4 separate regions of the Homo sapiens genome follow, and all the other regions are linked to region 4. Evidence: fine-mapped QTL for protein levels in blood plasma. A gene starts in region 4. Each other region holds a variant in brackets. All regions are shown on one strand. Distances are from middle to middle.

Region 1 (7,008 bases), 51 kb before region 4:
ACTGCACTCCAGCCTGAGTGACAGAGTGAGAACCGTTTTCTTAAAAAAAAAAAAAGAAAAAAAAGAAAAAAACCTCAATATCAGGAAAATGCAGCTTAAAACCACAATGAGAAATCACCTCACACTTGTTAGGATAGCTAGTATTAGTCAAATAATAACAAGCATTGGCAAGAATGTGGTAGGACTGGGAACACTGTTGGTGGGATTGTAAATTGGTACAGCCATTATGGAAAACAGTATAGAGCTTCCTCAAATAACTAAAAAATAGAACTACTGCATAATCCAGCGATCCCACTTCTAGGCATATAACCGAAGAAAATGAATCAGTATGTCAAAAGGATATCTGCTCTCCACTCCCATGTTCATTGATGCGTTACTCACAATAACCAAGATATGGAAACAACCTAAGTGTGTGTTGATGGCTAAATGGATAAAGAAAATGTGACACACAAACACACACATGCATGTACACAATGGAATATTATTTGGCCATGAAAAATAAGAAAATCCTGCTGTTTATGACAACATGGATGAACCTAAAAGACTTTCTGTCAAGTGAAATAAGCCAGACACAGACAAATATTGCACGACCCCACTTACATGTGGAATCTAAAGAAGTCAAACTCATAGAAACAAAGGTAGAAAGTTGGTTGCCAGCGGCTGGGCGTGGGGGGGGATGGGGAAAATGGGGGATTTGGGTCAATCGGTACAAACTTTCAGTTATAAGGGAATAAGTTTTGGGGATTTAATGTACAGCATGGTGACAATAATAATAATACTTCATTGTATATTCATATTTGCTAAGGAACCTCTGATAGCTTCTAAGCCCTGCTCTTCTCCTGCTTCTCCCCTTTCCCTGAGCCTGCCTTCCGCCTGCCCTCATCCACTTGGTGCTTACTGCTCTTCCTCCTTTCTCTCCTCTTTCTCTCCACACACCCTTTGGGTGGTTTCAGTAAGACTAGTGGATTAATTCTGTTTCTATCCCTTTTATTTCTCAAGGCATTATGGAATCTTGGCTCACTGCAACCTCTGCCTCCCGGGTTCAAGCGATTCTCCTGCCTCAGCCTCCTGAGTAGCTGGGACTACAGGCGCGCACGCCACCATGCCCAGCTGATTTTTGTAATTTTAGTAGAGATAGAGTTTTACCACATTGGCCAGGATGGTCTCGATCTCTTGACCTGGTGATCTGCCCGCCTTGGCCTCTAAAAGTGCTGGGATTACAGGCGTGAGCCACAGCGCCCAGCCAGCACATCTTGCTTTAAACAAGAAATGCAGGCAAGGCGTGGTGGCTCACGCCTGTAATCCCAGAATTTTGGGAGGCTGAAGCGGGTGGATGGCTTGAGCTCATGAGTTTGAGAGCAGCCTGGGCAGCATGGCGAAACCCCATTTCTATAAAAAAAAAAAAAATACAAAAATTAGCCAAGCATGGTGGCGCATGCCTGTGGTCTGAGCTACTCTAGAGACTGAGGTGGGAGGATTGCTGGAGCCCAGAAAGTCCAGGCTGCAGTGAGCCGTGATCGTGCCACTGCACTCCAGTCTGGGCAATGGAGTGACACCCTGTCTCAAAGAGATGTGCTGCACTCACAGCAGGCCAGGTTCTGGGGAAGAAGGTGGATGGTTAAAATGGTAAAATAGAGATGAATGGATCAGAGAAAAACATTTTTTCAAGCGTTTATTATGGATTCATGCCTTTCTTTGCTCTTTTGTAAATTGGGCCAATTTTTTATAAGTAGTGCCCATTCCCAAGGTTGTTATGGAGTGAAAGGAGGTAATACATGCAAAGTGCTTTGAACATGCAATAAGTAAATGCTCAACAAATGCCAGCTGTTGCCATGATTAGCGCAGTGGGCTTTGAGGAACATACTTAAAGGGGCATTCTCCTTTGAGTGGAGGGGCACGAAAAGCTTTCCTGAAGAGAAAACACATCTTCTTTGCATCAAGTCAATTAAGGGAATTCTAACTGCGCCAGGAAGCGTTTACTAATGAGTCTAATGGCAAAGGAAATAAATTATAAATACCCAATAATGTTTAAGCCAGTGATAGTGGTATCCGTGTTTTGCAGAAATTAAAACAAAACAAAACAAAAAACACCGGTTTCTATATCTTAAAGGTCAATAAACCTTCATATGAAATGCACAAAATTATCTAGTTAAACAAGATCCTCCTCCTGCACCAATACTGCTCATCCAAGTTACTCCCACAGTCATATGTTCGGATGGAGGCTACTGGAGAGTATGAATCTTCTGGAGTCCTCCTGCTGAAGGGGAACATATGTTTCCCACTGGCATGCAGCTCAAGGAAACAGGCCACCCTCACCTAACAAGCAATTAAATCAACATGTATTGGATATCAGAAAATGAAATCCCATAGATACGTTCCAAGGAGCTAGAGGCAAAACTGCTGCCAATCTAATCATCCTCAGCTCTTGTAGTCAGATGGAGAGTGCCAGTGGCCTATAGGATTGGTTATTCAGGCTACTGCTGCAAAAGGTTCTCTTCACTGTGGGTATACAATGGGGCTATCTTACAAGGTTAATCAGAGTATAGGACCTTGACACGGCTAAGCACTAATGGTTACATCTAAAACATGCCTGTCAGTAGGTGAGAGGAGAGAAATCATGGCTCCTTCCTCCCCTAAATAAAGGCTGGGGCTGGGGAGCATAAGACTCCCTAAGGCAAACCATATGTGGAAAAAGCTCCAAATACATATTTGGCAACAATTTTATGGAGCTGGAAGGAGTCATTCTCAAAATATGAAGATGTGACTTCAGGAAATTCTGAATGCTCCTTTCTGTTCAATA[G/C]TTTTCATAAATGAGATCACATTATATGTAGTCTTATTTCTCAATATGGTCTCTCAAGTATCAAGGATATTTTAAAAAACCAAACACCAAAACTGGTAATTTGATACAGAAATTTTCTTTTAATTTGAATCATCTTTATTGAATTATAATTTTTCATATTAGCCATTTCCATTTCTTATTGTACTTCTATGAATTGTTACATCCTTTGTTCATTTTTCTCTTGGAGTCTTCATGTTTAAAAACTATGGGCCGGGCGCGGTGGCTCACGCCTGTAATCCCAGCACTTTGGGAGGCCGAGGCGGGTGGATCATGAGGTCAGGAGATCGAGACCATCCTGGCTAACAAGGTGAAACCCCGTCTCTACTAAAAATACAAAAAATTAGCCGGGCGCGGTGGCGGGCGCCTGTAGTCCCAGCTACTCGGGAGGCTGAGGCAGGAGAATGGCGTGAACCCGGGAGGCGGAGCTTGCAGTGAGCCGAGATTGCGCCACTGCAGTCCGCAGTCCGGCCTGGGCGACAGAGCGAGACTCCGTCTCAAAAAAAAAAAAAAAAAAAACAACTATGTTAGTATGAGGGAGTTGTGGGGAGTGACTATAAAGGGTACAAGGTTTCTTCTTGGGGTGATGAAGAGGTTCTAAAATTGATTATGGGCCAGGCGTGGTGGCTCATGCTTGTAATCCCAGCACTTTGGGAGGCTGAGGTGGGAGAATCGCTTGAGCTCAGGAGTTTGAGACCAGCCTGGGCTACATAGTGAGAACCTGTCTCCATATTTAAAATACAAATAAAAATAAAATGGATTGTGGTAATGGTTATAATAAAAACCACTTAGATATACACTTTAAATGGGTAAACTGTATAAGTGAATTATCTCAATATAACTGGTTTTAAATATTAGCATAAATCATTTCCATATTAAGGTATTAAGCCTCCCTCTTCCAAAATCTGTAGGCAAATGTTCTAATCTCATTTGCCTTTTACTTTCTCATATTCAGAAGATATATATTTTTAAATATATAATCTGCTCCTTAATGAATCTTATTGCTTTTATTTGGAAAATTCAGTCACCCATCCAAAGATAGTCACTAGTATGTTCTTCTAGCTTATTTTCATATTTTTCATCTGGATTTTGGTGTACATTATAAAGCCATAATCTAGTATTCTCCAAAAGTTTACCTTCCTTATGTTCCTAGGATTTTTGGAACATTTTATTTATACTCACATCTATTTCGGGGCTACTACTGCCTTGGTCTAAGGGTTCAAATGTAAACTATTAGTACATTTTCAATATTTTTTAGCTGTGAAATATGGTTTTATATCTAGTATCTTAAGACTTCATGACTTTCCTTTCAAAATATTCCTATTCTTGCACATCTTTCAGATGAAATTTAGGATACTCTCAAGCCATTGAGAACATTAATAGACTTGCATTCAGTTAATTCACAAATAGAAGAAATGTTTAAAATATTTCATTTTAGGGCTGGGAACAGTGGCTCACGCCTGTAATCCCAGCACTTTGGGAGGCCAAGGCGGGCGGATCACCTGAGGTCGGGAGGTTGAGACCAGCCTGACCAACATGGAGAAACCCCGTTTCTACTAAAAATACAAAATTAGCCAGGCATGGTGGCACATGTCTGTAATCCCAGCTACTCCGGAGGCTGAGGCAGGAGAATTGCTTGAACCCAGGAGGCGGAAGTTGTGGTGAGCCGAGATCATGCCATTGCACTTCAGCCCGGGCAACAAGAGTGAAACTCTGTCTCAAAAAAACAAAAAACAAAAAACAAACAAAAAAATCATTTTATCAGCTAGGAGCAGTGTATTTTTCCATCTATACAGGTCTTCTGTTATCTTTGTATAGTTTCTGCACACATGCTCAGTTTGTCTATAAATGTGACAAAGCTTGTTGCCACAACAAATGGTGATATACTACAATTATATCTTAAAGCTACCTTTGTCTATTAACTTTTGGATATCTGGAGGTTTTTGCTAATTTCATATTAATTCTAAGATGAGATTCCCAGGCTTTCTACTTGGACCATTATATCATCTGCAATAATAACAATAGTTTTTTCTTTCCCAATAGTTGTAATTCATTTCTAGTTTGGGTCCTACTGCATTAAAAAAAATTGTATCAATATTCTGATGACAAGCCCTGAAAACATTAAAGCATGTATTAAAAACAATATCTTTCACAAGCAGGCTTATAAAGGATATGTAAAGCTCTCAAGCTTTAGAGAAAAATCTGAAATTCATCAATTTTGCCACTTTCTAGAATGTTTCATCTAATTTAGGGCTAAAGAACACCTCGAAGTGTTTAATAGATCCGGTGTGACAATATCTGGAGAAGGCACTCAATATTGGGGGCATGGGGTCCCTTTTCCCTCAGCTGTGCCCATCACATTCAAACCAACAGCAGGTGATAGCTCCTATTAACCTATGCTACTAACTGGAAAACTGTTCTCTTTCTTCAGTAGACACAGTTGAAGTGTCTAATGTCCTAGAATGCAATACTGGCCATTCAATTGCATACTTCTAAAGCCTCCCAGTAATCTTTTTGCATACTCTGTGTTAGTTTGTTTTTTGAGATACTCTCTTCCCCTCTGACATTTGTGCCTTGAGAATGAATCTTATTTTTAATCACTACTTGCACACACTCATTTGTTACAAAGTACATCAACTACCAAATTTAACGTTTGAGTGCTGGTTGCTAACAGAAAAAGGAATAAAAAATTTCTGCAGACAAGGCCTTGGTTTCTGAATGGATGATTTTAATGGTGATATGAACTGATTCTAACTGCATTCTGTCGCACCCTCATTCAAAAGAGTAAAACTTACAGTGACCATGTTTATCATGAAATAGTATTGCATTTATTTTAAACTGATGGTCCCCAACTTACTTAAAAATCGTAGAGGCTTAACGGTTTTTCAGCTTTACAACAGTGCACAAGTGATATGCATTCAGTAGAAATTATACTTTGAGTACCCATACAATCATTGTTTTTCACTTTCACAACAGTATTCAGTAAATAACATGAGCTATTCAACACTTCATTATAAAATAGGCTTTGTGTTAAATGGTTTTGCCCAACTGCAGGCTAAATGTTCTGAGAACATTTAAGGTAGGCTTGGCTAAGTTATGATTTCAGGTAAGAGATATTAAATGCATTTTCAATGTGATATTTTCAAATTATAATGGGTTTACTGGGACCTACCCACATCATAAGTTGAGGAGCGTCTGTATTTAATATGAGAAATTATTTTTATTTTTCTGAACAACTGAAAAGGTCCAATTCAATCGACCCTACAGAGAAAACGAACTGAAACATGGCCTCTTCCTACCCAAATCACTACAAGAGAAAATCTACTTATGTTATTTAAGTGAACTGTACTTAATAAATGACATAAATATATGTTTAGAAACAACAACACTCCATTTTCAAGGCTGAGTGGCTGTTTACTGAGATCTGGGAAGAGCCTCAGTAACTGCCTGTAAAATAAAGAACAATTTTTATTAACTCTTTTCCTTAGTAAGAAAGATGTAAATCTTGATGCAATACTCATTAACTAGAATCCTTCCATCACAAAATTTTTGTTCACATATGTTTAAGGACTTTTTGTTTGTTTGTTTGGAGATACGAGTTTCACTCTGTCACCCAGGCTGGTGTGGTGGTGGCATCTCAGCTCACTGCAACCTCCGCCTCCTGGGCTCAAGAGATTCTCCTGCCTCAGCCTCCCAGGTAACTGGGATTACAGGTGCAAGCCTGGCTAATTTTTTTTTTCTATTTTCAGTAGAGATGGGGTTTCGTCATGTTGGCTAGGCTGGTCTTGAAATCCTGAAGATTACAGGTGTGAGCCACTGTGCCTGGCCATGTTTGACTTCTAATTTGTGAATGTGATTTCTCAGATTTCTCTATAAAACACCTTCAATGACAGTACAAAAATTAGTGTTTAATAATTACTATAAAGTAATTTAAATAATTTCTATATTTCTCACCAATCACTTGGGTTTTGCTTCTCCTGCATGTATCATAGGTTTCCTTTTCAAACCATCGTTTTGATTCTTTAAATTTCTTGTCACAGCATCATAAATTTCATTTGCTGTAAATTGTCCTTAAAAGTCTAAAAGATACTTTGAGCCCCAATGAATGGATCGTATATAAATTCTGCCGCAGGCATTAGGGATAGTGTTTGAACACTTTTTAACAAGTTCCA
Region 2 (8,182 bases), 70 kb before region 4:
ACATTCTTATGTTAAAGGAGTAACGGAAAATTGAAGTGGCTGGAGCTTAAGGTACATGAAACAGCATGTAAGAGATGCCACTAGGCCGGGCGCAGTGGCTCACACTGTAATCCCAGTACTTTGGGAGGTTGAAGCAGGTGAATCACTTGAGGTCAGGAGTTTGAGACCAGCCTAGCCAACATAGCAAAACCCCATCTCTACTGAAAATACAAACATTAGCTGGGTGTGGTGGCACATGCCTGTAGTCCCAGCTAGTTGGGAGTCTGAGGCAAGAGAATCGCTTGAACTGGGGAGGCGGAGGTTGCAGTGAGCTGAGATATCACCATGGCACTTCAGCCTGGGTGGCAGAATGAGACTCCATCTCAACAAAAAAAAAAAAAAAAAGGAGAGAGATGCCACTGAACAGATAAGTTAGGACTAAATGGGGAGGCCCTTTGCTTTGGCTGCATTGACTGCCACTCTGTCCTTCAGTAACACTTTTACCCTAGAAAAGGGATGTTGAAGAATTTAAAAGTTCTTGGGAGACTCATACATACTCAAATCAAAATGTTCATATATGCTACTGAGGACCGTATCTTAAAACAAGAAAAGAAAATGCTCATATAGCACCTTATATCTTATGTCAGTTATTTGTTTCTTTCAGAATCATACTTGATATTTCCAGCTGATTGTGAGAATATTCTTCTACTTAGGGTTTTCTTTTTTGAAAAAATTTTATTTTTTTTTTTGTAGAGAGAGTTTCGCCATTTTGCCCAGGCTGGTCTCAAACTACTGAGCTCAAGCGATCCTCTAGCCTCCGCCTCCCAAAGTACCGGAACTTTTTTGGTGATAGGGTCTCACTCTGTGAGACCAGGCTGGAATGAATACAGTGGTGAGATTATGGCTCACTGTGGTCTTGAATTCCTGGGCTCAAATAATCCTACCGCCTCAGCCTCCCAGTAGCAGGGACTACAGGCCACCATGCCCAGCTAATTTTTAAATTTTTTGTAGAAATGGGTTTTTACCATGTTGTCCAGACTGGTCTCAAACTCCTGGGCTCAAATGATTCTCCTGCCTCAGCCTCCCAAAGTGCTGGGATTACAGGAGTGAGCCACCGCACCTGGTCAACTTTCTTTTCTCTTGTTGTTGAGACAAAGTCTCACTCTGTTACCCAGGATGGAGTGCAGTGGCACAATCACGACTCACTGCGGTCTCATACTCCTGGGATCAAGCAATCCTCCTACCTCAACCTCCCAAGTAGCTGGGACTACAGGCCACCATGCCTGGCTAATTTCTAAAGTTTTTGAAGAAGGCCAGGCATGGTGGCTCATGCCTATAATCCTAGCACTTTGGGAGGCTGAGGTGACGGGATTGCCTGAACTCAGGACTTGGAGACAAGGTTTCACCATGTTGCCAAGGCTGGTCTTGAACTCCTGGGCTCAAGTGACCCTCCTGCTTTGGTCTCTCAAAGTGCTGGCATTACAGGGTGAGCCACTGTACCCACCCTTGATTTTCTTTTAAAGCCAGAAAAGCGAACAGCCTGGTTGAGAATTGGGGGCCAGTTAATGTTCCTCTCACCTAAGAAACCAAACCAGTCCAGCAACCTCTTTCCAGTATGTTAGCAATGTGGACAGAGGAGAGGACAAATAGAGAAACCTAATGAAATAGTTCTTTTCTGAAAACATCGCTGTTTTTATTTTGTTTTGCTTTTAATCTGAGAGCAAACTTTCTGGCAGTGCCCTCCCATCAAGGAGTAAATAGTTGAGTGGTTGCTGAAGGGTGGTTGGCAGGAAGGCTGATTATGTTGACTCAGTTGACCGTGGTGTTTTCTGAATAGTAGAGCCCACAGAACTGCTCTCCCTGATTCTAGAACCCACACAAAAAATCTGGGTTTGGGATTTAGGAAAAACAACAGAAGGTTTTTAGGGTCCATGTACCCATAGAAAACTGTAGCTTCCTGCTTTTATAAAAAATCAATTTTGAGTATATAGTTAGTATATTTTTTCTCAAAATAGCAAATCCATTTGAGAAATCAACAATTTAATAACAATGTTTTTTTAAAAATTGAAATATCTGGCAAATGATTAAACATGGCCAATTTACAAGCAACTTTTCAATCTTAGTGAAAGGGCTGATTTGGATAGAAATCAACAAAATTGTCAGGAGGGGCCATAAGTGAGGGAAGAGGGAAGAAGCTGCTGGAAAAAAAACGAAAGGAAAGCAGTTACTAGGGACAATGTCTCCATTAGTCACAGCAGGCAGAGTGCCTGCGACCGACAATACTTTCAGAGGCCTACAGAAAGTGGTTTCATTTTTATTTCCGTTAAAATCAGAAGAAAAAAATGAATATATTATAATGGACCCAGCCTGGATTATATTTATATTTACACTAATGCAGTTGTGAAATACAATTTTTATTGTTTTTTCTTAAGAAGGAAGGAGCCCACAGAGGCAACGTGGTTGGGGCCTAAGAAAGTCCTCATGTGGCCCTGGCAGTTACTAAATAGGTTGGTTCAAATGCCTAAAAAAATACAGCCCTGTGGTTAATGAAATGTCTTCAGTGACGTTAACATTGATAGCATCCACATTTCCCTAGCTGAGTGGGCCCCCTCTACAGACTACAGGATCTCAGCCCACCTTTTAAAGCTTCCCCAGCCATAACTAGAGACCCCTTCCAAGTGCTCAGTACCAAGGCCAATCAGATTTTTTTTTTTTTTTTTTGAGATGGGAGTCTCACTCTGTCACCCAGGCTGGAGTGCAGTAGGTCCATCTCGGCTCACTGCAAGCTCCACCTCCTGGGATCAAGAGATCCTCCTGCCTCAGTCCCCCTAGTAGCTGGGACCACAGGCACACGCCGCCCTGCTCAGCTAATTCTTGTTTTTTTGTTGCTGTTGTTTGTTTTTTTGAGACGGAGTCTTGCTCTGTTGCCAGGCTGGAGTGCAGTGGCGCAATCTTGGCTCACTGCAGCCTCTGCCTCCCAGGTTCAAGTGATTTCCCTGCCTCAGCCTCCCGAGTAACTGGGACTACAGGTGCGTGCCACCACGACCGGCTGATTTTTTTTTTTTAATTGTATTTTAGTAGAGATGGGGTTTCACCATGTTGGTTAGACTGGTCTCGAACTCCTGATCTCAGGTGATCCGCCCACATTGGACTCCCAAACTGCTGGGATTACAGGCGTTAGCCACCGCGCCCAGCCCCAGTCAGATTTTTCTGTGCTGCTCCTTTCCACTGCCAAGAAGCCCTGTTAGGAGATGCCTCGTTAGTATTACTTTAGCTGGTGTCTACTTCAGCCTTTTTATCTAGGTGCTGTTTCCAAACTTTCAGTTCCTCATGGTGCCCACACAGCACTGGAGAACCTTCCATCCCAACCCAGTGTTAAAAGCTGTGCTGCAGGCACCCAGGAAGGGGGAAGCTTCTCCGTCTATAAATCAGGGTAATATGTTTCACTGAAGTCCTGAAACATCTGTGCTTGTACCTGGAGCCTCCCAAAGTCCTTCATGTAAATAGTAACTCCAGTGAATTACTGGTCTCTGAGCCTGGGCTGAGGAACAGACAACATCCTATCTTCCACTCTCCCATTCAATCCTGTCTCTTGTCCCACGGCATCCAAACACTTTTTCCTCCAATGTTCCGTTCTTCCAGGAAAATGTACACATACCACTTTGGTGCTGCCCTACACAAAGCAGATACTTGTTTTTTATTATACACACATGTATAAAGCCAAGTATTTCAAAAACAAGTATCAATTTTCAATTTTTTTTTTAAATATAGAGACAGGGTGTCACTGTGTTGCCCAGGTTGGTCTCCAACTCCTGCGCTCAAGCGATCCTGCCATCTTGGCTTCCCAAAGTATTGGGATTACAGATGTGAGCCATCCCACCTGGCTAATTTTCAAATATTTCAAAAGCAGTTAACATCGATATATAGTATATCTGAAACAAAGCATCATCAATATTGTCAATGCAGTATGTAATTAATATGGCCTCTTTTTACCATTTAAGTTCTGGTAAACAATTTTGATCCATCATATCTAACATAAAATGTGCAAATGATAGTTCTAGAACTATAGTGAGGAGATAACGAAAGGATATTATGTTGGATGGTAAAGCTCAAGTGGTTTTGAGAGGTGACAACGTGCTAGCAGCCCTTGCTCACTCCCGGTGCCTCCTTGGCCTCAGCATCTGCTCTGGCCACACTCCAGGAGCCCTTCAGCCCGCAGCTGTGCTGTGGGGGCCCCTCTCTGGGGCTGGCCGAGGCGGGAGCCGGCTCCCTCTGCTCACAGGGAGGTGTGGAGGCAGAGGCGAGGGCGGCAGCTGGGGCTGTGGCGCTAGTGGGCCAGCACGGGTTCCAGGTGGGCGCGGGCTGGGAGCGGGTCCCACACTC[G/A]GCGCCTGCTGGGCTTGATCCAGGTACGAGCTCCCTCTGGGTTGCCGGAATGCCCGGGGTAGGTGCCCAAAAGTCCTGGCGGCCAGTGCCATTGAGAGGTGAAGCCAGCTGGGCTTTTGGGTTGGGTGGAGACCTGGAGAACTTTTCCCTCTGGCTAAAGGATTGTAAACGCACCAATCAGCACTCTGTGTCTAACTAAAGGTTTGTAAACACACCAATCAGCACTCTGTCAAGACAGACCAATCAACTCTCTGTAAAACGGACCAATCAGCTCTCTGTAAAATGGACCAATCAGCTCTCTGTAAAATGGACCAATCAATAGGATGTGGGTGGGGCCAGATAAGGGAATAAAAGCCACGCCACCTGAGGCAGCAGTGGCTACTTGGTTAACTGTGTCCCCTTCTACTCTGCCAAGGCTTTGTTCTTTGCCTCTTAGAAGTAAATGTTGTTGCTGCTCACCCTTTGGGTCCACGCTGCCTTTATGAGCTGTAACAATGAGCTGTAACACTCAGTGCGAAGGTCTGCAGCTTCACTCCTGAAGCCAGCCAGGGAGACCATGAACCCACGGGGAGGGATGAACAATTCCAGATGGGAGGAATGAACAATTCCAGATGGGAGGAATGAACAATTCCAGATGGGAGGAATGAACAATTCCAGATGGGAGGAACGAACAACTCTGGACGTGCCACCTTTATGAACTGTAACACTCACAGCAAAGGTCTGCAGTTTCACTCCTGAGGCCAGTGAGACCACGAACCCACTGGAAGGAACGAACAACTCCAGATGCGCCGCCCACTCACTGCGAAGGTCTGCAGCTTCACTCCTGAAGTCAGCAAGACCAGCAACCCCCCAGAAGGAAGAAACTCTGGACACATCTGAACATCAGAAGGAACAAACTCGGGACACAACACTTACCGCGAGGGTCCACGGCTCCGTTCTTGAGGTCAGCGAGACCAACAACCCACCAATTCTGGACACATTTTTGCTCCAGGCACCTTCAGAGAAATGGTCAAGAAAGCAGCGTAAAGATCAACTGGAAATGAAAATTTCTGGATATGCTTTTACTTATGAAGAATATAATGGGGGGCCCAGTATAGTGGCTCATGCTTGTAATCCCAGCACTTAGGGAGGCAAAAGTGGGAGAATCACTTGAGCCCAGGAGTTACCTGGGCAGCTTAGCGAGACCTCATGTCTACGAAAATAAAAATTAAAAACTTAGCCACATGTGGTGGTCCCAGGTACTTGGGAGGCTGAGGTAGGAGGATCGCTTGAGCCTGGGAGGTCGAGGCTGTAGTGAGCTATGATTCCCACCACTACACTTAAGCCTGGGTGACAGTGAAATCCCCTCTCTCGAAAAGAATATAACAGCTATCATCACAGCCTGCGAAGTCAGTCACTTTGCCCTGAGGCATGTTCTGTGTTCTGAGGCAAGGATAGGAGGCTGACCCCTCAACCACCTACTTTTCTATTCAGCCACTGAAGCCTTCTGTGGCCTTCCCTGAGACCTGTGAAACAGTTGGGAGACCATTAGTACAGCAGTTCTTAAGCAGGCCAATTTTTTTCCATTTGGAGGCATTTCAAAATATCTAATGATCTTTTAAAAATTTTATTTAAACTGTTGTCTTTTAGTGGGCAAGGTCAAAGAATGCTAAAAGTCTTGCAAGGTAGGGATAGTTGGGCAAAAGAAAGATTTTCCTCTTACCCAAAAATATCAATAACACCACTATTGTGAGGTATCTGTGTAAGAACTGGGGAATTTGATTGAAGGATTTTTTTTTTTTTTTTTTTTTGAGACGGAGCCTTGCTCTGTCACCCAGGTTGGAGTGCACTGGTACGCTCTTGGCTCACTGCAACCTTTGCCTCCCAGGTTCAAGCGATTCTCTTGCCTCAGCCTCCGGAGTAGCTGGGATTACATGCACCTGCCACCACACGTAGCTAATTTCTGTATTTTTAGTAGAGATGGGGTTTTGCTATGATGGCCAGGCTGGTCTCAAAACTCCTGACTTCAGGTGATCCACCTGCCTTGGATCCCAGAGTGCTGGGATTATAGGCATGAGCCCCCGCACCCAGCCTAATTGAAGGAATTTCTTTCTTGCTATTGTGTTTAACTCCTGTATATGTGTTACAGGTATGGAAGGATGATATGTGATATTAGCTGATATGATTTCCTACATTCACTTTTTTGTCCCACGAAAAGGACAGAGATGCCCTCCTTCCAGGTTCCTCATGGCTCAGAAGTAGCATGAGAGAAGATTATATTGGTCTTGAGTGGTGCATGAAAGAGTCAGAAGACCTCACCAGGGATCCTAGACAAGGATAAAAGGATGTGCCTCAAAGGAATGAAGGGTGTCTGTCCTTACAGGAAATTGTGTAAGAACACAGTGAATTGATTCAAGTCAGTTTGGTCGTGCTCAACCCTTAGATTGTTTCTGTTAGAAGATAGTAGACACTAAAGAAATTTGAGGGAGTGAGATTTAGCTGTGCTTTCATAATCTCACAATCAGGTTACAGGAAAGAAATCTTAGCCCAAATCCTGTCACCCACATAGGTGTTTACTATGCAAACATTCATTAGTCACCACTAAGGAGTTGGTACTGTCCTGTTGGTGTAATGAAATTCTAGCTCTGTACTCTTTTAGGTGATCCAATCACACATTGCATGAAATGCTTACAAGCAGCACACAACAGCACTTCAGAAGCAGGAGTCTCTCTCTTCCAACTGGCATCATTCAGAAATCCTCCTATACCAACAGCTGCTTATAGGACAACTCAGGGAGCAAGCTAGATTTTAGGTCTTCCTTAATTGTTACACCCCCACCCATACAAGAGTTAGGAGTCTCTTTAAGGTATTTTTAGCCAGTCCTCATATTTTGAATACCTTTAGCATCACAAATGAGAGCTCATTTCTAAGAATCATGCTAAATAACTGCTTCTTGACAAAAGTTACTAGTTTCTCCAGTGAAATCCCTTTTCAGACATTCAGTATGTTTAATAGCAAAGTGTTAGTTTGATGAAGCCATCTCTGGGATGGAACCTTTTCTGATTTAATGTGAACTGATCATGCCTTAACTATGCATTATAAATTATCTGAAGGTTTTGGCTTCATCTAAGTAACAGATATTGGCCAGGCGTGGTGGCTCACACCTGTAATCCCAGCACTTTGGGAGGCCGAGGTAGGTGGATCACCCGAGGTCAGGAGTTCAAGACCAGCCTGGCCAACATAATGAAACCCTGTCTCTAAATAAACAAATAACAGATACAAAATATCACGATGTATATGCTGAGATCTTTTAAAATAAGTTACAGTCACTGTAACACAATGGAATCTGCATGGGTCCCAATGCTATGGGGGCCAAGTGAGATCTGCACCTGCAGATCAGTCACCACTTAAAATACTCTGGGTACTATGCAAGTGCTAAGGAAACATCTGGAGCCAAAGGCCAGTAGAGGACTGAGAGACCCGGAAGCAAGGTGACTGTCTCTTCACTCTCAGTTATTGGCAGGAATTAAGAGCTGAGTGAGGGGGAAAGGAGACTAGAAAGAAAAACCTTAGAGGAAGGGCTACTGCGAATAGAGTAGCCACTTAACCCTGAAGAATTTTTTTTAATCAATTTTTTTGGACTTGAACTATCAACAGAATTTTTAAAAAATTATTTACAGAATTAACAAAATTATTTCTTTCAGATAGGTGTGATGGTTAATACTGAGTGTCAACTTGATTGGATTGAAGGGTGCAAGGTATTGTTCCCGGGTATGTCTGTGAGGGTGATGGCAAAGGTGATTCACATTTGAGTCAGTGGACTGGGAGAGGCAGACCCACC
Region 3 (8,023 bases), 40 kb before region 4:
TTTGCGTCTCTTGATGAAAGAAGAACAGTCACTGGTCATGTTTATATAGTCGTCAGGTGTCCACCGAGGGCGCTTTTTAAATTTCACTGTTAGGATCTCAAGCTTTACCTTTTGGATTTCATTTACATCACCCTGTAAAACTTTGGTGCAATTAATATCACTACTAGGATTCTCCCCAGCAAGCTCCAAGTGTCTGACACTTACAAATTCAGGCTTTTGATGAATCCTTAAAACGGAGAAGGTGATTAGGGATAAAACAAGAACCATAAAGTAGTATTTGGTGGGATAAGAAAAAAGTCTCCTTCGCAGCAACGTCCTCAGCATTTCAAACAATAATCAGGGATTTCCTTTGTGAAGGGCAGTCTTCTATGCTCCAAGCACCAATGATTTTCCCTCCGTCGTGGCCTTGAAGGTTGTCAGTTTGCATTTATCAGAGCTGCAACGGCATCTTGAAATGAAGAGCAGCACTGAAATAAAAGAAGCAATTATAAATATAAATAAATATATATATATATATATATATATACAGAGAGAGAGAGAGAGAGAGAGTTTTTCACAATAAATCTTCTCAGGCTCAAAAAACTGTCCTCTTTGCTATGAGGTTAGGTTTAAAACAAAAACAAAGTGGCTGAATCAGAGGATAAATTGTAGTAGTACAGGAAGCCCACAGTCTCTAGTATTTATACCACAGATTGAAAAAGAAAACAAAAGAAAAAACAAACCCCAAATCCCAGTACATGGATGCACTAGAATATCTAACAACAAGCATTTTACCTCTTTGGTATGTTGAGGTGCAAAACCATAGTTGGACGCCTAGGCAATAATGATTGAACAGTCTATAGTTGATGAGTTTCTGACACTGTGCCAGAATTACCACCCCTTGTTCTTGAAATCGTTAGTAATTTAAGTTCCTCCTGACATGTTTTAATGTCCATTAGCTGGTGTCAGCAGCCCTAAAAGAGATCAGATCCATTCTGCTTTTTGCTGATTTAGGATTTGGGGCATACTTAGGGAGAAGTTTGGAAATGGTTGTGACTTCTAAGAATCTTTGAAGGAAGGGCAAGTCAACAGAATTTTCAAATTGGATTGAAAAGGCTCAGATGAAACAAAGCCCCGTTTGGGACTGTGTTGGGTTAGTCCCACAATGAGTTTAGTTCCATGCCAGAAACTACAAGAAAACAAAGTATTCATAATCCAAAAGAGAGATACAGCTTGCGTTTTCTGCATTAGTTATAACAGACTGTAATAACTAAGTCTTGCAGAAAACAATAGTGTATACAAATTGTAATTTATGACAGACCTTCATCTATATTCAAATTCCAGGAACACAACCCACTTTTACTATATGAAATGCTTACAAACATTAAATAGCTTTGTTTTCAAAAATCAATTTTATAACTTGGCAATTGGTTCTACAGCTGATAAGCGCTGCTGTTCTAAAAAAAGAAAGTCAAGTACTACCAATTTGACCGTTATAAATCTGTTCATAACAAGATTTCTAGAGATTTGACACGAGTTTTTAATGCCAGAAACTTAACTATTTCATTAGGAAATGAGTTGTGAATAGTAATAATACAAATAAAAATGAATAACTGACCATCATTAATATAAAATAATGTTAAGAAAAGTATTTAGACTTTTTACCATTTAAAAGTAAGGAAAGTCTGAATCACTTAGTGCTGATTCCAGGTGACATCCTGCCCCATTCTGAGCACTTCACATGCTGTCAGGTGTATTACATGTCCGGGCATCCAGCGATAATGATGTGCTGCACGAGTCTTTAAAGAAATCTGTGAAATTAAAAAACAATGTGACAAGGGATATATGGACACATAGTATTCACACACTCAGAAAATATGTTGGTGAACTAATCCTACATATTTGCTTTTTTT[T/C]CTCAAAATTATGGGTGGTTAACTTTTCTCTTTTAAAATTTCCTTCTCTCTAGTCTTACTTATTTTTCTAATTCTATGTTTGTGGATTGCTAAAGATTTGAAAACACCCTGAAATTTAGGTTAAGTTCTTTGAAAGAAAACTCTAGCAGCATTTCCCTTAATGTATACCAAGGAACAGTTTAACAGTCCAGTATGATTAGAAAATCCAACATATCCTTTCCCCCACTGTGAAGATTCCCAATGCTCACTGGCAAATTAATGACAATCCTGAAGCTGAATTTGTTGCTCATCTCATTTTCTTCTAACAATCTTGATCACCACCCCACTCCACACCTCTATCAGAAAGCGACCACGGGGAGCTTCGGTAACAAAACATAAGAATTTCAACCACTAAAATATCAAAACACTACAAAAAGTATGCCTTTAAGTAATTCCTGCCCCTTACTGGTTCAAGGCACATAAGGAAATCTCTATGGAATCATTAGCAGACCACTAACTAACTGAGAGAAACTTGAGTGGGTCTCAAATAACAAAGAATATAAACTTTAGACAACTGGTCCAGGAAAGCCACTAAACAAATAACAAAAACAACAAACCCTCCTCAGGGTAGGGGTAGAGATCTGATTTCCATGGTTGACACATTATAAACTATCCAGTTTCAACAAAAAAAAAATTACAAGGCATGCAAAGAAACACAAAAGTCTGGTCCACATACAGGGGGGTGGAACAAAAAAAAGCAGTCAATAAAAATGTCCCCAAGGAAGCCCAGGCATTGGATTTAATAAATACTTGAAATCAGCTCTTATAAATATGTTCAAAGAACTAAATAACTGAAAGAAAGCACGAGTATGGTATCTAACCAAATTGAGAAAATTTCAATAAAGAAATAGAATGTACAACACAAAGAATGAACCCTTAATAATAATTTATATAACAAGTTTGGGGAGGTAGAAAAATAGTTGAAAAAAATAATGTATCAATAATTAATAATAATGTATAAATACTGGCTTAATTGTAAAAAATGTACCACACTAATGTAAGATATTAATAACAGCAGAAACAGTGAGGGGGTAAATGGAAACTCTCTGTACTTTCTGTGTAATTTGTCTGTAAACAGAAAACTGCTCTAAAAATAGTCTATTAATATTGAAACAAAAATTAATTTGCACATCCAAGAAGTTCAATGAGCGCCAAAGAGGATAAACTCAGATATCCTTACCTAGACATTTCATAATCAAACTGTTGAAAGACAAGGACAAAGGATTTTGAAAATGTTAAAGAAAAGTGATTATACAACAAATCCTGAAAATGATTAACAACTTCAAATAAACAACAATGGAGACCAAAAGGCAGTGAGTGACATATTCAACGCGCAGAAAGTTTGTTGGCTAGGTGTGGTGGCTCATGCCTGTAATCCCAGCACTTTGGGAAGCTGAGGTGGGCGGATCACTTGAGGTCAGGAGTTTGAGATCAGCCTGGCCAACACTGTGAAACCCCATCTCTACTAAAAATACAAAAATTAGCCGGGCGTAGTGGTGCATGCCTGTAATCCCAGCTAATTGAGAGGCAGAGGCAGGAGAATCGCTTGAACTTGGGTGGTGGAAACTGCAGTGAGCCAAGATCATGCCACTGCACTTCAGCCTGGGCAATAGAGCAAGACTCCATCTCAAAAAAAAGGATTGTTAACCAAAAATTCTATAATGAGCAAAATCATTCAAAAACAATGAGAAACTAGGATACTCCCAGATAAATTAAAAAAAAAATTATCACTAGCAGCCTTACCCTACAAGAAATACTAAATGAAGATATTCAGGCAGAAATGAAAAGATTCTAGACAGCAACTCAAATCCACATGAAAAAATAGAAAGCAGCAGTAAAGGTATATATATACAGACAAATTTATAGTATGAATGTAATTTTCTTTGTAACTCTCTTCCCATCTGATTTAAAAGACAGCTACATTAATTTATGATGATAAAACTGTGTTGACAGGCTGACAGTGTGTGTGTATACACTTTTTTTCTTTTTTTTTTTTTTTTTGAGCTGGAATTTTGCTCTTGTTGCCCACGCTGGAGTGCAGTGCTGCGATCTTGGTTCACTGCAACCTCTGGCTCCCGGGTTCAAGCAATTCTCCTGCTTCAGCCTCCCAAGTAGCTGGGATTACAGGCACCCGCCCCCACACCTGGCTAATTTCTATATTTTTAGTAGAGACGGGGTTTCATGATGTTGGCCTGGTTGGTCTGGAACTCCTGACCTCAGGTGATCTGCCTGCCTTGGCCTCCTAAAGTGCTGGGATTACAGGGGTGAGCCACTGCACCCAGCCCTAGTGTATTTTTTATCTCATTGAGTGGACAAATTGGAACCATCATAAATTGCTGGTAGAAATGTAAATGCTTGGTGAAGCTGCTTTAGAATGTTTGGTGGGTCCACAGAAAATTAAAACTAGAGTTACCATATGACCTAGCTATTCCACTATTAGGTATATACCCAAGAAAAATGAAAACATATATTCACGCAAAAACTTGTATACAAATGTTCATAATGGCATTACTAATAGCTAAAATAGTGGAAGCAAGCCAAATGACCGTGAACTGAAGAATGGATAAACAAAATATGGTATATCCATAAAATGGGATATTATACGGGTATAATAAGATATGAAGGTCTCACACAAGTTCCATACAATGTAGATAAATAATCTAGAAAACATTAGGCTAAGAAATAGTCATTTATAATTCTGTTTATATTAAATGTCCAGAAAAAGCAAATCCATATAGACAGAAAGTAGATGAGTGTCTGCCAGGGGCTGGGGACATGGGGGAATGGCAATGAATGCTGGTAGGTACAAAGGTTTCCTTTGAAAGTTCTCTAGGTAGATAGTAGAGATTGATGTAGAACTTTGTGAACATATTGTTTACTTTAAAAGGGTAAACATTATGGTATGTGAATATTCAATAAAGCTATTATTAGAATAGTAACAATAAAGTTCACCAAAGTAAACAGATTTTAAGTTACAAATTGTGACACCGCTGAGTCTTGGGTTTTTTTTTGTTTTAAACAGGAGAAGTAGAATTATCTTAAACAGGATTTTATGGAATGTGGGTACATGAAAGGGTCACCTCGAAATCCAAATAGAAAATACAAAGTTCAAAACCAAACACTTGGATCTCACCTCAAAAAAGGCATAGGTCTTTACCACTGTCGTCTACATCCTACATGGCCCACATGCTTTGAAAAACGCTTTTTACAACGTAAAATCACTAGTTTTGGGTTTTAACAAGATGGGTAAGTGTCTATAAAGAAGCTAAATATGTGAGAAAGCATTACTTTGTCAAAAATGCTTTTGATTTTGTCTATTTATCATCAGGGTGAATACAGAAGTCAAATCATTCGAAGGAATTGTAATTAACCAACCTAATTTCAAGACATACAACGTTTTCTTAAGTAAAACTCGGCTAAGAATCAGAAGGGTGAAAGGAAAATGAGATTTCATAGCCAAAGAGATTTCCAAGAAGAAAAGAAGTTTAAAGGGAAGTAAAAATGCGCACATGCTATACTATTTTAATGCAACTTTACCAAAAATTACACACCCACACAAGGAATAAATACCAAAATAATTAACAAAAATGTGGCCATGGGTAGTTAATACTGCTCTGCCCAATGTTCCTTCACCTTTATATTTCACTCAGGAAGCATACTCACTGAAGAATATCTGGTGGGATTTGCCAGTGAGGACAACTACAGAAGAGTAAGAAACATTCTAAATGACAAAAGCTCATGAATTCTGGGAAAGCAAGAAAAACTCAAGTCCCAAACCATACTAAGCCTCACTCGCCCAAGGCCTGCCTAATCCAACAACTGACCTGGGGCATGTCCTGAAGAAGGTCCCTCAGTGGACACTGGTCCTTTCCTGGAAGAGGAGACTTCCTTGAGGACACTACCCTATATAATTTTAAGTAGATCGCATAACCTAAGAAGAAATGAGAAATGAAATAATTCCACCGTGAGTTGGAACAGAGGAAAGCCAGTACCTGAAAGTAATGGTTCTTGGTACTTGACTTTTAAGACCAAGAAATACAAAAATACTAAATTCTAAGAATACTGAAAATAAATACTTATCTTTTATATAGTCAATAAGAAGGAAAGCTAGTCAAGGAAGGGAAAAAGAAGATAGGTATCAGGTGCCCCTAAGGTGACGATATGGTCACTAAAAGTGTTCCAACATAAAGAGAGTCAGCACCACCAGATAGACAGGGTGCCGCTGAGTGCTTAATGGAGTGGGAAGATGGACAAAATGACCTCAGGGAGAGGGAGACAGGAGGCAGAAATCAAACTGGAAAAGCAGATGGACGAGAGGAAACTGAAAAAGCATATGCACAAATCCCAGGCTGACAGGCGGGAAAGAACAGACCAGCTCTATTTACACTGCAGGATCTTCAAAGGGTGCAGGAACTGGTGCTGGTTGCACGGATCCCTCTGAAGGGGGGATGCGGAGAATGATGGAGGAGTGGTGTTGCTTTGTTTTTTGTTTTGTTCAAAGTATCCACTAGTAGCTCTTTACAAAGCAGCTGGGTTTCTACCTCAAACTTGGCAAAGACCCATCCAAGATGTAGTCTCTGCAGAGGCTCTCCCTTCCAGGGCACACCAGGCCTAATGGAAAGCAGTTCCCATCCAGAAAACAGTAGGACCCAGGCACAGTGAATAGCCTTCTCCATTTCCAGCTTGCTTATCCATATTAGTTCCCAGAACTTTGATTGTCAGCCCAGGGCAGGAGTTTTTTTTACTGGGGAATCCAAGCATGCCAAGAGAAATAAGGCTTAAATATCTTGCTTAAACTGGGAGACCCCCAAACAGTCAAATGAAACAGACTGTTCAGGGAGAGGAAAACTACCACTAACATTCTCAGGATATAGAAAACTACCACTAACATCCTCAGGATATAAAGTTAAAAATATGTTAAAAAAATATTAATGAGGCACAATATATTTTCTGAAGACAGCCAGGCCAATATTTTCACCCAACATTTTCTTCTGCTATATGACCTTGCCACTCCCCAACCAAGAAGTAGTCAAATTCCCTCCCTCTTGAATTTGAGTGGCCTTATTGAGAGGTGAAGCCAGCTGGCCTTCCTGGGTCGAGGATTGTAAATGCACCAATCAGTGCTCTGTGTCTAGCTAGATGATCGTAAATGTACCAATCAGCATTCTGTAAAAATGGACCAATCAGCACTGTGTAAAATGGACCAATCAGCATTCTGTAAAATGGACCAATCAGCAGGACATAGGCGGGAGCAAATAAGGGAATAAAAGCTGGCCACCCAAGCCAGCAGCGGCAACCTGCTCTGGTCCCCTTCCATGCTGTGGAAGCTCTGTTCTTTTGCTCTTCACAATAAATCTTGCTGTTGCTCACTCTTTGGGTCCCCACCACCTTTAAGAGGTGTAACACTCACCGCAAAGGTCTGCGGCTTCACTCATGAAGTCAGCGAGACCATGAACTCAATGGAAAGAAGAGACTCCAGACACATCTGAAGGAACAAACTCTGGACACACCATCTTTAAGAGCTGTAACATTCACTGCAAAGGTCCGCGGCTTTATTCTTGGTCAGCGAGACCAAGAATCCACCAGAAGGAACCAATGCTGGACACATCTTGGTGACCTTGGACCATCACCAAGCAGTGAGTACCATCGGACCCCTTTCGCTTGCTATTCTGTCCTATTTTTCCTTAGAATTCGGTGGCTAAATACTGGGCACCTATCGGCCAGTTAAAAGCGACTAGTGCGGCTGCCGGACTAAAGATACGGGTGTCAGGTTTTCTGGGAAATGGCTACCTAACAACCCCCAACTCTTTGGAGTTGGGAGTGTTGGTTTGCCTGAAAACAGCTTCCGCTTTTCCTGTACTTCCAGGCTGAGCCCAGGGTTGACAGAGAGGAAAGCCATTCAGCTCCGGGGTCCTGACAGAAAGTTGGCTGACCCTGTAGCCAAGAGCGGAACTCTCCTCCAAGTCATATCACCCAAGTGAGACTCGCCCATCTATCCTATCTATCCTGACCCTTGCCTCCTGGCTCCTAAAGCCTGTCAGACAAACTTCTTGCTCTCTTCTCCGAGGCTAGTCCCTATTATAAAAACCACT
Region 4 (8,182 bases):
GTTTAGTTATCTTTATGATAAAGGTGTTTCAAGGCGTCAGATGTTTAAATTTACAAATAGCTTCTCTAGTCCTGAAGAGTTTCAAGTTAATTGTTAAGCTTATAAATGTTTAGACCATCTCAGAAACATTTAGACCATCTTAAATATAGGTTCATTTTGTTCCTCAACCAAAGATGACTTTGTTCTCCGGGGAACATTTGCCTATGTCTGGAGACATTTGGGGTCATTTAACTGCAGGGAGGGTGCACTGGCATTTAGTAGGTAGAGGCCAGAGATGCTGCTAAACATCCTGCAATGCACAGGACAGCCCCCACAACAGAATTTAACTGGCCAAAAATGGCAAAAGTGCCACAATTGAGAAAGGCTGGTCTAAACATATATGGCATTTGCCTCAGATAGGAAACGTGACAGCACTAAGCCACAAATCCAGTGACAAAGCCAAGAATACAGACAGTCTCCACAAGAAACACATATGGTTATATGAACAGTCATTTGGGAACTCCCTTTTTAAGACAGGGAGTTAGACATTTGACATACTGACCTGGAACCATGAATACATTTCTCATTAGAATAAATAAAAATAGTGACAAGAGTCCTTGGTTGGCTCTATAAAAAAAAAAAAAATACAGTATAGCTGAAATACCACACACTTCATAGAAAACAGAATTTGACAGTCAGAAGGGATCATTTCCAGTAGTAATTTCTGTTTTCTACCACTTCATTTCATGAAAAATGTACAATATCTACATCACAGTTCAGAATTTTCCATTCATCGGAGAATATAATCACCGTGTACAGTAGCAGTTTTTAAGGCAGAGTTTTGCAAACAGATGATGCATGAAACAAATTTGATTTTATTCTTTGTGGGATTTTTGTTTTGAGACGGAGCTTCACTCTGTCGTCCAGGCTTGAGTGCAGTGGCACGATCCCTGCTCATCCTAACCTCCGCCTCCCGGGTTCAAGCAATTATCCTGCCTCAGCCTCCTGAGTAGCTAGGATTACAGGTGCCCACCACCACACCTGGCTAATTTTTGAATATTTTTGTAGAGATGGGGTTTTGCCATGTTGGTCAGGCTGGTCTTGAACTCCTGACCTCAAGTGATCCACCTGCCTCAGCCTCCCAAAATGTTGGGATTACAGGTGTGAGCCACCATGCCCAGGCTCTTTGTGTGTGTTTTTTTTTTTGAGACAGACTCTCGCTCTGTCACCCAGGCTGGAGTGCAGTGGTGCAATCTCGGCTCACTGCAACCTCCGCCTCCCGGGTTCAAGCAATTCTCCGTCTCAGCCTCCCGAGTAGCTGGGATTACAGGCGCCTAGCCACCACGCCCAGCTAATTTTTGAATTTTTAGTAGAGACACCATCTTGGCCAGGCTGGTCTTGAACTCCTGACCTCGTGATCCACCCGCCTGGGCCTCCCAAAGTGCCGGGATTACAGGTGTGAGCCACTGCGCCCGGCCCTCTTTGTGTTCTAAAAAGGAAAAAATATGAGCCAATATTTAAAATCAGGCTTTACATTTTTTATTTTTAAGTAAAAGTTCTCAGCTATTCGTGGAAAAAAAAAAAAAAAAAAAAAGCTGCCTACACTGTATGGCTGAATGGGAATTCCTGCATGGATACTCGGTGGAAATGGCCAATATCCACCCAGCCTTAGCAGGTTCCTCTGCAGTCACCTGGGCCCAACCAAGCACTCTTGTGCATTACCTGTTTAGTCCATGTGGATAAAGTGGATTTTGTGATCCCAGTTTTAGGGAAAAACGTTTTTCTTACTGTTAAGCAATTCAATTACAAACGGAAAAGGAGTAACTCCTTAAAAAGTGAGTGGAAGCATTGCTATCATTAATCAAGAATGAACTATAATTAATGAAGGATAGAATCTAGTACAAACTTGGGGCCAAGGCTAAGGAGATCCTTTACAGGGCCAAGTTGAAGGACGGGCAGAGGAGGTGGCAGTGACCGTCAAACCCTCATCATGAAATGGAAAAAATATCAACCTCTCGGCCAATAAAACTTTTTAAAAGTAAATTCATAGTTTGGTATATTGTATTTTAAAATAAAGGAGTTTGCCATTTCTAAGAAATCAGTTTCCCAAAACTACCATTTTAAGGGCCCGAAAAAAATTCCTTTAAGAAAAAGCAGGTATCTACACAGTCTGAGTTTTCCTCCCTGCTAGAACTGAAATCTGTTACGAAAGCCTCCAGCAGGGGGGCCTGCCTGGAATTGCCTAAGCTCCTAGCAGGTAATTTACACTGATCTTTAAAAACTACTAAGCCCTCCTCCTCCCCTCTATAAAACAAACCGGCCTTTCAGAACAGCTCTGGAAGGGGGGCAGAATGCCAGACGAAGAGACAACTTCCAGACCACGTCTCTCACCTCCCACCCATCAAATTCAGCCCACAAAAAGCTGTGGCCGCATTCTCATCTCAAGGCACCACGGCTTTCTTTGAACACCATATATCTTCCCAATTGGCCTCTTGCCCCATTATGTGTAAAAAACCGACTCTCTTTTCTGCAGAAAGAAATAACAAGGCAAAGGGTGTACAGGGCAACGTTTATATGCATCTACAGCATGCCAGGTGCCTACAGAACCTACCTCGGCCTAGGCGGTCCGTGCCCTAGCCGGGATCTGCAGGCGCCCTCATCCACGCTGGGAGACGGGAAGAGGAGAGGGAGGCGTGACAGGCGAGGGTGCCTGTGCTGCGCAGAAAGCGCTGCCAGGAGAAAAGAAGCAGTGAGCAAGGGCTTCTTCCATTTCAAAAACCTAATAACCAAAACTTGGAGGAATCTGCCTGAGATACTTAAAAAAAAGAGGAAAGAGAAACCTAGGAGGGGGTAAAATGCTTTTAAGACGAATCACTTGTTTTCGTAATAGACCCTGCGCGCGAGTTTCCTAGACTGCCGCGAGAAGAAGGAAAGCGAGGGAGCAGGAAAGGAGAGGCTTCGGAGCCCCTAAACTAACGTCTCTTTTCTTATTAGTAATAGTTTGCTCCAGGGTGAGTCATTTATTATCCTAGCGTTGGCCTCTTTATCAGTAAAGTAGGGGTGAAAATGCATCTTAGCCGGGCTGGCGTTAGGATTCAATGAAGTTAAATGAAGTTAAGCCCCTGGCACCCATGGGATGGCAGCGAGTCTGTTCGTTCCCTGCCTATCCACGCCCGCAGCCAACCCCTCCGACATCTAAGCTACACGGACCAGGGGCAAGAGGCCAGAAAGTGACTTTCAGGGGACACGGGGCACCGGCGTCCCAGCCCCACTGAGCGGACGGAAAATGAAGGTGGAAGGAAGAGGCGCCGCTCCATTCCGGTCCCGGGCGCACCCCGGTTCTGCTTCCTCCTCCGCGGGGGAGCCCAGCCCGCCCGGGGCCACGGGGCACTGGCTGAGAGCCGGCTCCCTCCCACCCATCCTTCTCAGCCTTCCCCCACCGCCGGGCGGCCGAGCAGGGGAACACGAGGGAGAGCCGGTTACCTGGAGTGGGCGTCTGACCCCGGAGTCTCAGGAGGATGCCCAGCCGCTCCTGCTCCACCAAGCTCCCGCCCCGCGCCGCGCTCTAGGCGCTCCGGAGCTGCGCCTGCAGCCCTCACACCAGCGTGGCCCGCCCCGGGGCCGCCCCCAGAGGCCCCGCCTTTCTAGGCCCCGCCCACCACGTCCCCGCCTCGCCCACCTGCGCGAGCTCGGGGCTGGGGACTTGCTGCGGACTCGCGGTTCCCGCCTACAGGCGAGGGCGCCCTCTGGGCACTGACGTGGTCTGGGAGTAGCGCTGCGATCCTAGTGCTTCCTCGCTCCTCTTCCTCACTGTGCTCTGATTCTTAAGAGGTGTGTGAGCGGCGTCTTTTTAAACATTTTATGCCTCCCTTCCTCGAAAGCAGGAAACTCGAGAAATGCTGCCTTTTCTGATTTTAAACATGAAAATATGTTACAGAACAACAATAAAATTAAATTCCAAGGTTCTCGATATGTAAAGTTTAGAGATAACCATGTAGGTGTTTTTTTCTCTCCCCTAACGAACCTTGCTTCCTAAATTTAGCATTTAAGAACTCATTACATTCATGTGTATTTCCACATAAAAATTAAGATCAAATTAAACTGTGGAACAATCCACAGTGCTGTGGAAAGTAGGAAAAAACCTTCCCCGCCCTTATAGCACAGATCTTTGTGTCAGTTATAAAAGTTGACACAGTTCTCTTTGTAACAAGGGGAATATTGTGTCTGTGTCTTCTTTCGTTGGATTTTTAGCTCCTAGAAAACAGAACGAGGTCTTATTTGTTTCCATGTTGTTTAAAAAAAATTCTGGCCGGGCGCGGTGGCTCACGCCTGTAATCCCAGCACTTTGGGAGGCCGAGGCGGGCGGATCACCAGGTCAGGAGATCGAGACCATCCTGGCTAACATGGTGAAACCGCGTCTCTACTAAATATACAAAAAATTAGCCAGGCGTGGTGGCGGGCGCCTGTAGTCCCAGCTACTCGGGAGGCTGAGTCAGGAGAATGGCGTGAACCCGGGAGGCGGAGCTTGCAGTGAGCCGAGATCGTGTCACTGCACTCCAGCCTGGGCAACAGAGCGAGACTCCATCTCAAAAAAAAAAAAAAAAAAAAAAAAATCCAACTCAGAGGCCATTAGACTGTGATATGTTTGACACTTGCCTGATTTGTCAACAAAAATTAACATAAGATGATGGTATAGAGGAAGAAAGACTTCCCCTCTACTCTCTGAGGCTTGGATAACTAAGTCTATGAAATAAATTGACTGCAGGTAGATTAACAAGAGAAAAAGTACACAGATTTCGTGTAGGGGGTATCACAGAAAAGAAAAACTAATATTCCCTCTGCCTCCCCCAACAAAAACTGAGATTTTAGGAGCTTGTGTATCCTCTTCATTGGGGAGGGACAATTTAGGGGAGAGGAAATGATTTTGGGAAAAACTCCTGAACTCCTTCAATGGCTAGCTTTGTTTAATATCTCATGAAATTTTTCATGAGCAATTCAAGCATAATTGTTAAGAGCAAGTAGATTAGGTAAATGTAAATGGAATAAAAGTTTATAAACTTTTAAAAATAATTTGTTTTATAAAATTTGTCTACTTAAAAATAGTTTTAAAAATCTTTTTTGGTGACTTGAAATTTCGAACATATTAAATTAAGTAATAGATATTCATTAAATGTCTGAGTCATTTGTAAGTTAAAATACTGACATGTTAATTGCTAAACATAAGTTTAAAGTATAGCCGGGGCTGGGCACAGTGGCTCATGCCTGTAATTCCAGCACTTTGGGAGGCCGAGGTGGGTGGATCACCTGAAGTCAGGAGTTTGAGTCCAGCCTGGCCAACATACCAAAACCCCGTCTCTACTAAAAATACAAAAATTAGCCAGCTGCGGTGGCGTGTGCCTGCAGTCCCAGCTACTCAGGAGGCTGAGGCATGAGAATCGCTTGAACCCGGGAGGTGGAGGTTGCAGTGAGCTGAGATCGTGCCACTGCACTCTGGCCTGCGTGACAAAGCAAGGCTCCATCTCAAAAATAAATAAATTAATTAATTAAAAATAAAATATAGCTGGCTGTTTGCAATGGCTCACGCTTGTAATTCCAACACTTTAGGAAGCCGAGGTACAAGTATCACTTGAGCCTGGGAGTTTGAGATCAGCCTGGGCAGCATAGCCAGACCTCACCTCTACAAAATAAAAATAGATAAATTAACCAGGGGTGGTGGCCAAGCAATAGATTTATGAATTAACTTTTGGAATATATCTTGTTTGTCAGTTGGATACTGCCTGTATACCATAAGTGTAATCCATTTTGTTTGTGTATGTGACAGGGTCTCACTCTGTTACTCAGGCTGGAGCACAGTGGCGCAATCACAGCTCACTGCAGCCTCAACTTACCCCTGCTCAGGTGATTCTCTCACCTCAACCTCCCAAGTAGCTGGGACTACAGGTGTGTGCCACCATGCCCGGTAATTTTTTGGTATTTTTTGTAGAGATAGGGTTTCACCATGTTGCCCAGGCTGGGTTTGAACTCCCACGCTCAAGCGATCCACCCACCTCAGTCTCCCATAATGCTGGGATTACAGGTGTGAGCCACCTTGCCCAGCCCACTTATTTTTAATGCCTGCAATAACATACACCCATAAATCTATACAAGTAGTTTAGAAGGTATTTCTGGAATGCTTAGGGGTGTATCAGTCAGGGCCCAGTCAGAAAACAGAAATCACAGCAATTACTTTTACAGAGAATTTAAGGTCATGAAGATTGGCAAGGCAAAAACATTGTAGTAACAGAGAGAGAGTAACTGCAGGAAGCAGCTGCCATGCACAGAGCTGGGGAGAGGGGAAGTGTTGGGGTTATCAGAACCTAACAGCCAGGAGAGGGCCCCTGGTTGGCTGGGAGTCAGACCTCAAAGGAGGGGGCGGTACCCAGCTGGTGCTTTTATCTCTGAAGGTAAATATTGAGGCTGGATGGGAGAGGGTGGATTAAAACAAACAAACAAATCTAAGAAACTGGAACCAGCTGTTGCTGCAGCCAGGGAGAAGAGCCATTGCTTGGTAACATGGACAGGAACAGTAAGCAGCTATAAAGTAGCAAGTCCCTCTCCTCAAGCACCCCTTATAAGCAAAACCTTATAGGAAATGTGATTTGCTAAGTCCCAGCCCTGGCTCACAAAGCAGAAGATAGAAGCTTGAGTTTGAACTCTAAGACATACTTCAATAACCAGCACAAGGAGCAAACTCATGATCACAAACACCCAACTCTCCTAATATTATAGATGTGGGAAAGTGTCTGATAAACACAGCTGTCATAGTAATGATTAATACAATAGCAATATATTCTTAAAATGTCATAATAAAACTATAGTTACAAGTACAATCAAATAACGGGACAGAGGCAGGGCATGGTGGCTTATGCCTGTAATCCCAGCACTTCGGGAGGCCGAGGTGGGCAGATCACTTGAGGTAAGGAGTTCGAGTTCCAGCCTAGCCAACATGGCGAAACCCCGTCTCTACTAAAAATATAAAAATTAGCTGGGTGCGGTGGCACATGCCTGTAATCCTAGCTACTGGGGAGGCTGAGGCACGAGAATCGGTTGAATCTGGGAGGCGGAGGTTCCAGTGAGCCAAGATCATGCCACTGCACTCCAGCCTGGGTGACAGAGCAAGATTCCATCTCAAAAATAGATAAATAAATAAGAATAAATTAAAAAAAAAGTAAGGGGATGGTGTTGCTTGACCTATACTTTGTGTTACTGGAGACCAGTGAACATCCTCTCCCGGCTGTATTTTCTGAGAAACCACTAACTACATAGAACCACCTTTCCCCAAATGACTTAGGTAATCATCATGGATAACATCCTTTCACACTTACAACAAGGCCATAGACATGCGCTCCAAATTTCCATTCTCATCTTATAAATGGTTAGCTGAACCATTTGCCCCTACTGATCAATCTGGGCAAATACCTTACTTGATCAAACTTCAATGAGGCTTTTCTCCTTCCATCAGGTCTTTGCCCTTTAATCTAGTCTCAGCCTAAACCAGCATTGGAATTTGGAATAAGCCCCTTAATGTCCTGTATTAGTCTGCTTTCACATTGCTATAAAGACATTTCTGAGACTGGATGATTTATAAAGAAAAGAGGTTTAAAGGCTGGGTGCGGTGGCTCACGCCTGTAATCTCAGCACTCTGGGAGGCTGAGGCGGGCGAATCACAAGGTTAGGAGTTCGAGACCAGCCTGACCAACATGGTGAAACTCTGTCTCTACTAAAAATACAAAAATTATCCAGGCGTGGTGGTGCACGCCTGTAATCCCAGCTACTCAGGAGGCTGAGGCAGGAGAGTCGCTTGAACCCGGGAGGCGGAGGTTGCAGTGAGCTGAGATCATGCCACTGCACTCCAGCCTGGCGACAGAGTGAGACTCTGTCTAACAAAAAAAAAAAAAAAAAAAAAAGAAAAGAAAAGAGGTTTAATTGACTCACAGTTTTGCCTGGCTGGGGGGGCCTCAGGAAACTTTTAATCATGACAGCAGGGGAAGAGGCACATCTTACACGGCGGCAGATGAGAGAGAGCAAGCAAGAGCAGGGAAAACAGCCTTATAAGACCATCAGATCTCCTGAGAACTCACTCACTATCACAAAAACAACACGGGGGAAACTGCCCCCACGATCCAATCACCTCCACCAAGCCCCTCCCTCACCACGTGGGGAT

Which allele goes with the higher level. Alleles are on the strand shown, and positions count from the first base shown. The strength of an association depends on the size of the effect and on how common the allele is. Not every link is listed here.
For the plasma level of the protein whose gene starts at base 3,586 in region 4, allele C in region 3 goes with a lower level than allele T (strong association).

The links. PIP is the posterior inclusion probability: the model's chance that the variant is causal. Protein levels are from antibody-based Olink assays in UK Biobank. Linkage for the fine-mapping came from a reference panel and not from the study's own genotypes, which makes the PIPs less certain.
Region 1: its variant is fine-mapped to the plasma level of the GCNT1 protein (UK Biobank, PIP above 0.99).
Region 2: its variant is fine-mapped to the plasma level of the GCNT1 protein (UK Biobank, PIP above 0.99).
Region 3: its variant is fine-mapped to the plasma level of the GCNT1 protein (UK Biobank, PIP above 0.99).

Annotation. Positions count from the first base shown.
Region 1 is chr9:76,505,952-76,512,959 of GRCh38, reverse strand. It overlaps GCNT1 (glucosaminyl (N-acetyl) transferase 1), which reads right to left. Exons shown (of 4, transcript NM_001490.5): 4 at 5,544-7,008. Among named protein-coding and RNA genes, the nearest start is that of GCNT1, 50 kb to the right of the region's middle. RefSeq lists an enhancer at 1,310-1,810. The variant G/C (reference allele first, on the strand shown) is at 2,801.
Region 2 is chr9:76,524,991-76,533,172 of GRCh38, reverse strand. No RefSeq gene overlaps it. Among named protein-coding and RNA genes, the nearest start is that of GCNT1, 70 kb to the right of the region's middle. The variant G/A (reference allele first, on the strand shown) is at 4,363.
Region 3 is chr9:76,494,683-76,502,705 of GRCh38, reverse strand. It overlaps GCNT1 (glucosaminyl (N-acetyl) transferase 1), which reads right to left. Exons shown (of 4, transcript NM_001490.5): 3 at 1,645-1,790; 4 at 1-467. The coding sequence starts at 324. Among named protein-coding and RNA genes, the nearest start is that of GCNT1, 40 kb to the right of the region's middle. The variant T/C (reference allele first, on the strand shown) is at 1,893.
Region 4 is chr9:76,454,586-76,462,767 of GRCh38, reverse strand. It overlaps GCNT1 (glucosaminyl (N-acetyl) transferase 1), which reads right to left and starts at 3,586. Exons shown (of 4, transcript NM_001490.5): 1 at 3,463-3,586; 2 at 2,591-2,708. RefSeq lists silencers at 2,202-2,271, 3,262-3,801 and an enhancer at 2,542-2,651.